Linked DNA regions of Homo sapiens: region 2 is linked to region 1. Evidence: fine-mapped QTL for protein levels in blood plasma. Region 1 holds a variant in brackets. A gene starts in the other region. All regions are shown on their forward strands. Region 1 has its middle 6.4 kb from the start of PPARGC1A. Region 2 holds the start of KLK15 (kallikrein related peptidase 15).

The links. A credible set is the group of variants that fine-mapping cannot tell apart. PIP is the chance, under the fine-mapping model, that this variant and not a neighbour inherited with it causes the effect. The UK Biobank Pharma Proteomics Project read protein levels with antibody pairs (Olink). The fine-mapping took linkage between variants from a reference panel, not from the people measured, so its PIPs are less certain.
Region 2: it holds the start of KLK15, and the variant in region 1 is the best candidate, but not a certain one, in a credible set for the plasma level of the KLK15 protein (UK Biobank, PIP 0.80).

What each region holds. Positions count from the first base shown.
Region 1 is chr4:23,895,168-23,897,667 of GRCh38, forward strand. It overlaps a transcript of PPARGC1A not described here. Among named protein-coding and RNA genes, the nearest start is that of PPARGC1A, 6.4 kb to the left of the region's middle. The variant C/T (reference allele first, on the strand shown) is at 1,019.
Region 2 is chr19:50,832,286-50,835,316 of GRCh38, forward strand. It overlaps KLK15 (kallikrein related peptidase 15), which reads right to left and starts at 1,289. Exons shown (of 6, transcript NM_017509.4): 1 at 1,242-1,289. The region is part of intron 2 of LOC105372441 (a long non-coding RNA gene); the gene reads left to right.

The DNA.
Region 1 (2,500 bases):
AAAAAAAAAAGCAATCAAACCATTCCCGTGATACTTATTTTTTAGTGCTTGAGTACTAATTAGCTTAGCTTTTCTCGATCTTAGAGAAACAAAACAAAACTGTATTTTGCAAATAGTCTCAAAAAGGTAACAATAAATATATATATTTTTTTCTTTTTCTTTTTCTTTTTTTTTTAATACCACCAGGCAGAGTCTTGGAAAGATTTTTGGTTATTTGACTTGTGTTTCTGTTATGGGTTTTTCCAGTGCTTTGATATTTGAATTTTGCTCTAGCTAAACTGATATGTATATACATATATCCCAAACATGTCGGAGAGGTAGAAGGGAAATAAATTCTCATCTTAAGAAGCAATTAGCTTTGAGGTCTAAGCTCAGTTTTGTGGTGACAGATAAACTCTTACTTTATATTTGCTAGCCCAATTAGACACAAGACTTTTGAGAAAACATCCTTAACCAAGACGACCGCTTCTAGGATTGACCTCTACATTTAGCAGCTCAATCGAAAAATAGATGTCAGATACTACTGGTAGGATTATACTGGGTATAATTTTTATACAGAGCAAGCAGGCAATATATATTCAAAACTTCTAAAAACCTCATAGACCTAGAACATCTACTTCTAGAAATTCATCCTAAGGCAATAATAAGGGAATGTGTACAAAGATTTTTCATATTAGGATGCCCAATGCGACATTATTTGCATTATTGAAAACTTGAATGCAATGTGAATATCCAACATTAAGTGACCTGGTTCAATAAATTATAGAGATGTGTGTGTGTGTGTGTGTGTGTGTGTGTGTGTGTGTGTGTGTGTATATATATATACACACACATATTTATATTTAATATTATCATTAAAATCAGTTGTAAAATATATTTAATAGCATAATGGGAGAGTGTTCAAAATACATTAGGGTTTAAAATGAAGCTTGAAAAAACTATAATCATGAAAAGTTTACCTGTAAAAATATATCCTCAGAAAGAAGAAGAGGATGAGGAGGAAATGTAACAAGCTGTT[C/T]GTAGTGGCTGACGACGTTATAAGTACTTTTTACGTTCCTTTATGTGAATGTGCCTTTCTGTAATTTTCAAATTTTCTCTTATAAACATGCATGACTTTTATATTCAGAAGAAGAAGAATTATTCAGTTTTGAGAGGAACAGAGAGATTCAGTATTAAAGCCATGCCTGCTTAACATACTGGGAATGTAGCAGATAGAAATAGCCCCTGACGCCCAATATTATATCTCAAATATGCATCATATATTTAAAATGAAGCCATTTCTGCCTGTCATACCAAGTCCAACAGCTGCTCCACTTAGGATGCAAAGCTCATGAGCAACACTGAGGGAAGTTAGTACCTGGTATACTTAGAAATCCCAGAATTATGGAGAGAAGGAAGCTATCAGCTACTATCAGCTTGCCTCAGAGGTAGACCCAAAACCACTAACCCCCAGACATGACTACCATCTTCCCTTTGTTTCTCAATCTGAAATTTAATCAATTGTAAAGTCAATTTTCTCTTTAAAAATCTTAATTAGCCCGGGTGGGGTTAAAGAAACTTCATTCATTTATACAATAGTAAATATTTTCAAGAATGGTATAAATAAATAGGTAAGAATAATTCTTGAGAAGAGGGTCTACCAACTAACTGGGGAAAAAAGGAGGGGCCACCAGCAAAGGCTTAGAGAAAGAGTGTTTGGAGACATGGCTTCCACTGGAGATGACTGAAATTGATTTGACCAGGAAAATGCAGTCCCAGTTTCAACCCGGTGACATACAAGTAAATTTCTGGAACACAGCCCATCCCTAAATGTGAAACAACCTGTGTAAATGCTGCCATGTTGCAGCCCCGTGCTTGGGCAGAAAGCTCATGTTTGGCTTCTCAAATATCACAAGAGGGGATAACTCACTTTCTTTCCCCTGGAAGGTCAACTATATTCATAGGAATGAAAGCTTTATATCAGCCAATTTGATTTCATGTTCTCAAATTTCCTGGGCCTTTTCTGCAGATCATTCTTCCTACACATGGGTGTTTGTTATTTTGACCATTAAGAATATTTGTAAGAAGAGGAGTAATGAGGTTTAAACCAAAGTCAGCCAGCCTTATGAGATTTAAGGTGAGTACTGGAGACTCAAGTCTATCTGACAGGTGGAGTCACTTTGAGGATCTTGATTCAGCCCAAAATGAAAGGAAAGTGCATGGTAAGAAGAACATGGCCCTCATTCAGCTATGTCACTTGCCAGCAATTTGACTTTGGGTGATTCATGTAATGATACTGAGCCTCGGTTTCCTTATCTGTCAACAAAGATGGCCGGATTCAATTAAATCAAAGATCTCTGCCAGATCTAAAATGCAGTGATGTGCCTGTCTTGACAGAGACAGACAACTCAGGAAGCCTTCTTTGCACAGGGTGAATCCAAATGTCTCATTTCACAAAGATACTGGAAATCAGAGATATTGTACAAGAAAGGCAACTGGCGCTCAGTGTTGCTGAAAGAGC
Region 2 (3,031 bases), not on the chromosome of region 1:
TCCAGCTCTTCAAATTCACTTTCTTTCTTTTTTTTTCTTTTTTTTTTTTTTTTTTGAGACGGAGTCTGGCTCTGTAGCCCAGGTTGGAGTGGAGTGGCGTGATCTCCGCTCACTGTAACCTCTGCCTTCTGGGTTCAAGAGATTCTCCTGCCTCAGCCTCCCAAGCAATTGGGATTACAGGTGTGTGCCACCACGCCCAGCTAATTTTTGTAATTTTAGTAGAGACGGAGTTTCACCATGTTGGCCAGGCTGGTCTTGAACTCCTGACCTCTAGTGATCCACCCGCCTCAGCCTCCCAAAGTGCTGGGATTACAGGCATGAGTTGCCTGGCTCCAGCCTCACTTTCAAGGACAAAAGTGGCTTCTTCCCTTCCAGCCCCTCTCCCTGGGTCTCCCATGACCTTGTCCTAGACGCAGCCAGTGCTGCCATTTTCCCTCCTGCCATTTCATGCTTAGGCTATTCCTCCCACCGCATATCCAACGCCATTCCCTTCCAGCCCCGCTTCCTCCTTGAGGCCTTCTCTGACCTCCCCTGACCCTCAGTGGTGTCTGCCTCCCCTACGAGACTGGCAGCTCCCCGAGGAGCTGGTCTGACTCCACTCTGGGTCTCCAGTACTGCAGGGCCCGACCCACGGGAGGCCTCAGGAAGCTTTGAGGGTGAATTGAAATCCTTCTTCCCCATATCTTCCAAATTCATCTTTGTCCTCTGACACTCTGCCCCCACCTCTTCTGGGAGGCCCCAACACCTAACAGGTGTCTCCCCTGAATCCCACAGCACCCATTCTGTCTCCATTACAGCGCAGATGCCCCATACTTGCTGAGGTCTGGCCTGTTCTTTTCTCCATCTGGGGGTCTTGAAGATGGGGCTCAGGTCAGGTTCTTTCTGTGACCTCAGCACTGCCCCACCTGGGGCCTGGTACACAGGAGGCCTCCGGGAGGTTGTGCTGAACTGACTTGAACCCGTGATCACTCCTGACCACGTTCTTGGCTCTGATACAAGTACTTCAGGGACGTCCTCCTGATCCACTCCATCCCCCTCCCTCCCCACCACTGCAGCTCCTTCTGGCCATTCCAGGACATTTTCTTGGTTCAGGTTCAATTTGGGGCATTGGTAAAGGACACGTGGATCTACCCATGCCCTTGACACTCAGTTCTCCAAGCGTGGTCAACGTTTCCCCTTGAAACCAGGGCACAGTGAATCTCCCCTTTGCCCCTCCCTCAGTCTTGTCTCAAAGCTCTCACCTCCTCCAGATCCTCCAGCAGCATCTAGGGCAGCTTGGGTGCCAGAAGGGAGCAGGTACCAGGATGCCTGAATTTATAAGCTCCCAGTCCCAGCTGGGTCTGGGGGTGTGGTGGTGTAGGGTGGGGTGGGAGGTGGCTGAGAGTCAGGTTTACAGGCAGAGACGCCTTGGTTGCTGGTGGGGTGGGAGACTTGGCCTAATGAGCATTTATTAGGTTGAAGCTGTTGTCTGAGTCCACAAAGAGGAATTCTCCACCAGGAGCAGTTCCTCAAGGGGGAGGGGACAGGAGGACAAAAACAGAAATTAGGAGGAGATCAAAAGACAGAGTCTGGAATTTGGGGTCTGGAGTGTGGAAACTGGATCCTAAAGTCCCTGTTCTTGGGCTTGGGGCAGAGTTCTGGATCCCGGGTTCTGGATCCGGATCTGGTTCTGGATCTGGGTCTTGGATTCTGGATTTGAGGATCTTGAGTTGGAGATTAATGACCTGCAGTCTGGAATATGGATTTCAAAGTCTGAGTTCTTGGGCTGGGGGTCTGGAATCTGGATCCTGGAGTCGGGCCTTTGAGTGACAGATCGTGAACCTTGATTCTGGATCCCGGGGCATTCGAATCTAGAACCCACAATAGGAGCCTGGAATCTGGTGTTTGGAATCTGGCAATCGAGGCTGGAAACCTTTGCACCTGCTATGAGAAGCCTGGGGCCTAGACTACAAATGGTAGATTTGGGATTTTGAATTGTGGGGTCTGGATTCTTTTTTTTTTTTTTTCTGAGATGAAGTTTCGCTCTTGTCACCCAGGCTGGAGTGCAATAGCGTGATCTCAGATCACTGCAACCTCCACTTCCTGGGCTCAATAGATTCTCCTGCCTCAGCCTCCTGAGTAGCTGGGATTACAGGCGACCACCACCACGCCCAGCTAATTTTTATATTTTTAGTAGAGACAGGGTTTCACCATGTTGGCCAGGCTGGTGTCGAACTCCTCATCTCAAGTGATCCACCTGACTCAGCCTCCTAAAGTGCTGGGATTACAGGCGTGAGACACCATGCCAGGCTTGGGGTCTGGATTCTACAGGGTGGATCTAGCCTCTGAGCTTTCAGGAGTAGACTTTGGAACATACAGTCTGGAGTTTCAAATCTGTTTTTGCATTGAAAACCTGGACTGTGGCTGGGCCCAGTGACTCATGCCTTTGGGAGGCTGAGGTAGGAGGATTGCTGGAACTGAAGGGTTTGAGACCAGCCTGGGCAACACAGCAATACCTCATCTCTATGAAAAATCTAAATAAATAAATAAATAAGTAAATAAATTTTTAAAAGGCTGAATTGAGAGACAGGGACCTGGCTTTCACGATTCTGAGATTGCTAGAATCTTGACTCTAGAGTCTGAATTTAGAGTCTGGGAACCCAGGGTCTCTATTCTGGTCCTGTAGTCTTATTTCTGGGTTCTAGAGCTTGAAATCTGGATTCTGCATCCCAGAGGCTGGAGATGATCACTGAGATGACCCAAGGCTTTGGGTATTTGAGGCTGGCTTCCAATGTCTCAGAACCCCAGAGGGCCCCAAGCAATTATCTAGAGTCTATTTTGGCTTAATTAATGAGGAGGTCCCAAGACAGGAGGGACTGACCTCACTCAGGTCACCCAGTGAAGGATGGGACCTGTTGTAAGCGTGGTCTCTCCCCATGTGTGGAAAGTCATCATCTTTATGGGAAGGATTCAGCCATTCTAGAACTACAGGCCCCTGGAATTTCTAGAATATCAGACTTTCAGATTCTAAAAGCACAGGCCCTAAGACATT